2 linked regions of the Homo sapiens genome follow. The protein of the gene in region 1 purifies or fractionates together with the protein of each later gene. This does not show direct contact. Each region holds a gene or a part of one and is shown on either strand. Other genes may lie near its edges.

Region 1 (3,817 bases):
AATTTTTGTATTTTTAGTAGAGACAGAGTTTTGCCATGTTAGCCAGACTGCTCTCGAACTCCTGGCCTCAAGTGATCTGCCAGCCTCGGCCTCCCAAAGTGCTGGGATTACAGGTGTGAGCCACTGCGCCCGGCTGTTTTTGTTTCTGTTTTTTTTTTTGTTTTTTGTTTTTAATAGCTTGACAGCAGCTTATTAATCACATGTACTCACAGCCCTGGGGGGTGGGGGAAAGGCGGGGAGGCATACCACACGGGGCCACACGGGGGCTGTGGGCTGCACTTGAGAACACAGTGAACAGCCAGGAAGGTTAAGTGCCCACTGGTTCCAAAGGGAGCTGTGTCCAGAGGCTGTTCCCTTAACCACTAGGCTACATTGCCGCCCTTGCCCATAATTTATCAATAAATTTGCACACAATGGGGGCATGCACTAAAATATCATTTCCTGATGGGATGCATGGTCACACAGACACAAAGCCACCCCTGCCATTTAGAGAGTCAACCTCTCACGGTCACCAGTTTCACTGGAAACCCATCTACTGAGCAGCTGGTTGCCAGGACCTGTGCCAGGGCCCTTCATACATGCTCGGCTGTGCTAGCCCATCTCTCATGAGCGCTCTGAGGCACAGAGATGACGTGACTTGGTTCAGGCCACACAACAGATTCATGGCAATGAAACAGCCGGAAAAGGCAGAGCGGGTAGCCTGTGGGCTTTGGAGTCAGACAGACTTAGGTGGCTGTGTGACCTTGGGTAGATCCCTCGACCTCTCTGAGGGCTCTGTAAAATGGGGCTAATGGTAGGAAGGGTGTGGTGGCTCACACCTGTAATCCCAGCACTTTGGGAGGCCGAGGCAGGTGGATCACCTGAGGTCAGGCGTTTGAGACAAGCCTGACCAACATGGTGAAATCCTGTCTCTACTAAAAATACAAAAAATTAGCTGGGCGTGGTGGCAAGCACCTGTAATCCCAGATACTCGGGAGGCTGAGGCAGAAGAATTGCTTGAACCCAGGAGGCGGAGGTTGCAGTGAGCCGAGATGGTGCCAGCGCACTCCAGCCTGGGCGACAGAGTGAGACTCCATTTCAAAATAAATAACTAAATAAAAAGGGCTAACAGTACCTACCCCATAGGGCTGCTGGGGAAATCAAACAAGGTTGTATCTACAGGGCCTCTCCCTACCCATTTTGTGCCGGCACACAGTAGGCCCACTGTTCTTTGGGTTGTTGTTACTACAACTGGGGAAGAGTCTCAAGGAGTGGGGGAAGGAGCAAGCCCTAGGGAGTGGCCTTTCAGAATGGCCCCAGCATTGGGGTGCCCACCTGCTTCCTGCTGGGGGAAGGAAAGATGCACCAGCCTGCCCGCCTGCTCAGTTACCTCCTGCCGCATCACCTCCAGGCTGGCCTCGCCCTTCAGCAGCCTCTGCCGGAGGCCCAGGGTCTCCCGCCTGCTCTCCTTCTCTGCCCGCTCGCCCAGCGCCAGGCGGCCCTGCAGCTCCGCCAGCTCCCGGCCCAGTCTGGTGTTCTCACTGTCCAGCATCTTCATCTGTGAGAGCACGGGAATGGCAGCAGGTTCAGCTCTGCCCCTGTACCCTCCCAGTTCTGGCCCAAGGCCACTTGGTACCTACTGCTGTAGGGACACATGTATCAAATACCACCCCACATCCACTGGGAGCCGGCCCCTACACAACCACACTGAACTTGGGCGATGCCAGGCACTTGGGCACCAGTGGCCTGTTTACCACTTAATCAATGGGCCAAAACTACCTTTCATAAAGGGGTGGGTATAATAGAAGGAGGGCTCAGCCCTTAGCAGACCAGGAGTTCACAGGCAGGAACCACAGCTCCCTGGGTTATCTTTCCCCTCTACGATGGCGATGAACGTTTTTGGAGCGCTTACCATGTGTCCAGTCCTGTTCTAAGCACTTCAGTTATATTAACTCGTTTAATCTTGGTACAATGCTATATGAGGTAGGTAGTAACATTATCCCTATCTAACAGATGAGAAAACTGAGCCTCAGAGTGTCAGAGTAACCTCCCCAAAGTCACACAGCCCACACACACCAGACTGGGATTCGATCTGAGACAACGGCAATGTTCTAAGCCCCTATTTCCCCACAGGAGCAGGGAGGGGTACTGCCTACCTCCCCCATGTGCTACAGCAGGGGTAACAGGAGAGGCCGTAGCATGCAACGCGTCCAGCAAAAGCTGGCACGCAAATGCCAGCTCCTTTCCGGGAGTCTTGTGGTTTCTCAGGAAGGGGCCTGGGTGAAGGGGGCTGTGGTATCTCTGGCTATCAGAGTATCAGAATATCTCTGGCTATCCAGTTGTGATCTCTTTTTTTGTAATTAAAAACAATTTTTTTAATTAAAAAAATTTGGGGGGGCCAGGCATCGTGGCTCATGCCTGTAATCCCAGCACTTTGGGAGGCCAAGGTGGGTGGATCACCTGACATCAGGAGTTCGAGACCAGCCTGGCCCACATGGTGAAACCCTGTCTCTACTAAAAATACAAAAAAATTAGCCAGGTGTGGTGGCGGGCATCTGTAATCCCAGCTACTTGGGAGGCTGAGTCAGGAGAATTACTTGAACCCGGGAGGCGGAGGTTGCAGTGAGCCGAGATTGCGCCACTGCACTCCAGCCTGGGCAACAAGAGTGAAACTCCATCTCAGAAAGTAAATAAATAAATAAAATAAAAATTAAAAGTTTAAAAACTTTTTTTAGAGTCAGGGTCTTGCTTTGTCGCCCAGGCTGGAGTGCGGTGATGCGATCACAGCTCACTGCAGCCTTGACTTCCTGGGCTCAAGGGATACTCCCACCTCAGCCTCCCAAGTAGCTGGGACTCCAGGAGCGTGTCACCACACCTAGCTATTTTTTAAATTTTTTGTAGAGACTGGTTCTCACTATGTTGCCTGGGCTGGTCTTGAACTCCTAGGCTCAAGCAGTCCTCCCAACTTGGCCTCCCAAAGCATGAGATTAAAGGCATGAGCCATCACAGCTGGCTAATTTTTCGTATTTTTAGTAGAGACAGGTTTTCACCATGTTACCCAGGCTGGTCTCGAACTCCTGGGCTCAAGCAATCCACTGGCCTCCGCCTCCCAAAGTGCTGAGATTATAGGTGTGAGCCACTGCGCCTGGCCTGGTTGTGATATCTCTGGGTGAGGCAGCGCCTAGGGGCTGAATGAGGCCATTTCCTGTTCTTTGCATCTTCTAGAGTGAGAAGCCTGAACCCACAGTGTCCAGGCCAGTGCCCAGTAGACAGCAGGTGCTTCTTCAATACATGCTGCTGTTGAGTTTGCAGATCATCGAATTCACGGGTCAGCGAACTACAGCTCACAGGCCAAATTCAGCCCATCTCCCGTTTCTACAAGGGTCTGAGTTAAGGATTTTTTTTTTTTTTTACATTTTTAAATCATCGAAAATGGATCATTTCTAAAGGAAGAACAACATTTCTTGACACATGAAAATGACAGAAAATTCACATTTCAGTGTCCCTAAACAAAGTTTTACTGGAACCCACACCCCTCTGTTCATGCACTGTTTGGGACTGCTTTCTCACTACCCCAGCAGAGTCAAGTAGTTGCAACAGAGACTGTGTGGCCCGTAAAGCTGGAAATATTGACCATTTGGGCTCTTTACAAAAAACCATTTGCCAACCTCTGACCTAGTTCACAAAATCTGTACCTTTTGTTGTTTGCAGATTCCTTTGAGAACTGGACAAGGACACCAGCTCCTCTCCTTGCAGAAATGTGAGCCTGAGTGTGCACACAAATGCACGCAGACTTTTGCACAGTTTCAGGGATTCAAGGACTCCTCAAAGCCCATCC
Region 2 (3,817 bases), on another chromosome or scaffold:
AAACACTACCAACTAAATTATATTAACAAAAAGTACCAATTTCTCTTATTTAATTTCTCCTGGACAAATAGGTTAAACCTAATAAGTGGTTCCACCTTTATACACAGAATTGCACTGAGATACACAACTCAGAAATGTTGACCACTTTTTGTCTCACTTCTTTCCCCAATTTTGTCATCCCATGGCTTTCTTCACGCACATAATTCCACACAATTCCACACAATCTCTTGCAACAAAGGGAAAACAGCTAATAAAAAAGGTTTTGTTTGCCTTTTCTCCCTGTTTAGCAAACTTTACTAAGATATTACACATGGCTGCTCAACTCCCCTACACTCACCACTCCCGAAAGAAACTGGACAACAACCACCTTTGGAGCAGTTTAATTTTCCCAAAAATTGTCTGTAGCTGGTCACTTCTTCAAATTCTTATAGTTCATGGTATCCAAAACATATCTGCAAAATAACTTTAACAAAAACTAGTTTCTGGTCGCAATCACACATTTGCAGTTTGGGAGAAAGGGCTGAAAAGGAGTAGGTTGCTTCTGTCAAAAGACCTGGTGATCCCCAACCCCGGATCAGGAAATAGAAACAAAATACATTCATGTATAATGTCTGTTAAAACATTATAGGAAGCCATTGTTTTGGATGAAGCTCCTGCAGTAGGCCCCGATAGACCCTATGTTCCATAGACTAAAAATCAAAATGAACTCACCCTGGCTAAAATTTTAGTCACCAAACTAAAACAAAGTTGTTATCTGACTTTCCAAGAAATCTAAAGAATGATAACAGCCAATTTATCAAACAGGCCAGTTTCAATCTTCAATAGGCATGATAATAAAGTTCCCTCTACTTTAATCCTTATACAAAAAGACTGAAGTAACTTCATTTTATCTGTTATTTTTCTATTTTTCTGTCTCCCTCTCTCCACTTTACAAGGAAAGCAATCCACTTTCTGTTGTTTCTGCTTTCATTAGTCCTATCTATAAAACCAACCCCCCTGCTTAATTCATTAGAACACTTATCCTATTTTATGAAATGAAGTGTTGCTTGATTCTAGAATCATAAACCCAACAGAGATCTTTAAACTAAACTTGTAATTTTGTCCTTTTGACAAGCCTAAAACTAAATCAAGTGTTGACTATATAGTTCTGCCTCTCCAAACAAGACAGTGATGTTCCTGAAAAAAATCTGTAGTTTTCAGAGTTGAGAAATACACCTTGAACGGAAAAAAACAGAGGACCAAGTTATCATTGTGGCCAAGGCCATGGGGAATAGTACACAAAATAAAGGATATATAAATGACATTTCCACATGTTCAACTAGTAATACTTAATAATTTCCATACAATTAAGTTTCACAACCATTCCTTGCTAACTAGATAACTATTCAGGATTTCCCCCAAAGAATTTGGACATACATTTTGTGGCAGATAATATGCATGTTACAGGTATTTTGTTGAGTCTGATCCTTATCCAAATGTTCAGGACTTTTCTGATTTTCTGGCTTGGTATTACTTGACTCTCATTCTTGTCAGTTCCCTCTTTTTCCAACATCTACCCCTGTTCTCAACCATGTTTACAAGCAGGAATACAGTTTTAAGACAAAATTACTTTCTCTCTGACAAAGTTTCTCCTGTTTACGGAGAAATTTTAAAAGTATAGGAAAGGAAATCCACATATACCACAATAATTGTCTGTAAAATTCAAGTTAAAATTAAGGAAGGATAATTGCAACTGGTTAAATAAAAAGAACCCAAACATGTAAAATTCACATGTAATAGTTTCCCAGGCAATTTCCCTAAACCCACCAGGAAAATGCTGAGCTTAATAATTGCCATCAGATTGCTCAGCAAAGGTGGCAGCGTCCCAAAAACCACTTCCCAATTCACAGGCAAGGAGTGCCCAGATTCTCAGAGAATAGGCATTCAGCTGTCAACATTCACTTCAAAAAAGGAAGAGGAAAAAAAAATTGCTTGGAATTAAAAGGAAAATCTAGCATGCCTATAATTTTCAAAATATTTTCTAAGAGGGCAAAAGGCCATAAAATAGTTCTTGTGCCTTTAAATGAGACAACTTGCTTCCAAGTCACTATTCCCACAACACAACAAAGGACATTACTGCTACTAGCTTACAAATAAAACTTTTCTTTCTTTACTTTTCCTTTGTCACTCACCTTCTGGCAGCTGGGCACCTATCGCTCATCATACACTTGTCCCTCCTCATTCTATTCAGCAAGTAATCTTGCCTTTCTCTTGGAATGTATTTTCCAAAAGGCTTTGTTTAGCTGCTATTTTAGTGACATTACAGAACGCATTAGTGAACCCAGATATTCATTCCTAACCAAACATTAAAAGTCTAGGTTAACGGATTGCAGAACAAATTTTCTTCTCTCAAAGCTCTGAAATCACCTTCAGTTATACCTATTAGAGAAATGATGCAAACTAGAAACTAAATTCTACAAATACTTTGAGTCAATTCTCAGTAATTTCTCAGTAAGTTTTAACTTTAAGATGGTTTTTCTGAACAAACAAAACTGTTTTCTGTCTATTTTACTCCTATCCATAAAGGATTTTTTGATGGTTAACCCATTGCATCTACTAATCCATCATGATAATGTAGTAAACAAATCTAAAGTGCCTAGTACAGAGCCGAGCTCATAACAAGTCATCTATAAATAAATGGTAAGTATTATGATCCCTTGTCAATTAAAGATCTGTAAACCAACACCTTAAGGTATTATGGTAAAAGAAACCTAAGTATTTGTCAACAGTGGCTAATCATCACCTAGATTTATAAATTTACATTCTAAAGCTGAACCCTGAAGTAGACATCTTCTGGCCCAGAAATGCCCTCCTTTTCTCAGAGAACACCCCCCCACAACCCTAACACACACACACACACACACACCCACAACCCTAACACACACACCCACACCCACAACCCTCACACACACACACACACACACACACACACAGCCCTGGCAGCCATATTTCTAAAATACAGTGAGGCCTCAGCACCCCAGGCACTGGACCAGAGATGGATACCTGACCCAAATTCAGCCAATCAGACTTTCTTCTTAAAATTTGGAACTGGAGGCTGAGTGCGGTGGCTTACACCTGTAATCCCTGCACTTTGGGAGAAAGAGGTGGGCGGATCACCAGGTCAGAAGACGGAGACCATTCTGGCTAACATGGTGAAACCGTGTCTCTACTAAAAATACAAAAAATTAGCCAGGCGTGGTGGCACATGCCTGTGGTTCCAGCTACTCAGGAGGCTGAGGCAGGAGAATCGCTTGAACCTGGGAGGCAGAGGTTGCAGTGAGCCAAGATCGCGCCACTGTACTTCAGCCTGGGCGACAGAGTGAGACTCTGTCTCACAAAAAAAAAAAAAAATGTGGAACTGCAATACAGAAGCAACTGGTTAGTCTACGTAACTAATAAAACTAATGGCAAATAAACTAGGGAGCTGTCATTTTCTATCCTCTGTAAAGAAGCAAGAAAATCTTATCTGCTGAGAAAATAATAACTCAAACAGAGAAGCAGCAGAAATTGGTGATTATAAGACACCAGATAGAGAGAAAACTAACAGCACCTTCTCTGAGTCCTCACAGTTTCCAATTTCTGGTTCAAGTCCTTTGGGAGACTTGACCACATTCTGTCCCTTTTGTTCTTTGAAAGGTCCCTATGTCCTTGGTGAAAAACTCTTTTCTACTTAAGCTCATTATAAAGAGCTTATATACTTGTAACCTAGAGACAAAAGGTTAAGGCAGGGCCATTTTCTACATCTCTTTCCCTGTAACAGAGGGTGGGAAGCAGAGTC

Evidence for each region.
Region 2: the proteins of CROCC (region 1) and SRBD1 purify together in Homo sapiens (affinity purification with mass spectrometry; one large-scale study listed by BioGRID and IntAct). This does not show direct contact.

The regions. Positions count from the first base shown.
Region 1 is NC_000001.11:16,956,303-16,960,119, reverse strand, and holds part of CROCC (rootletin), read right to left. Parts: intron 1,538-3,817; coding exon 1,370-1,537; intron 1-1,369. UniProt on the Homo sapiens protein: Major structural component of the ciliary rootlet, a cytoskeletal-like structure in ciliated cells which originates from the basal body at the proximal end of a cilium and extends proximally toward the cell nucleus.
Region 2 is NC_000002.12:45,594,047-45,597,863, forward strand, and holds part of SRBD1 (S1 RNA-binding domain-containing protein 1), read right to left. Parts: intron 1-3,817.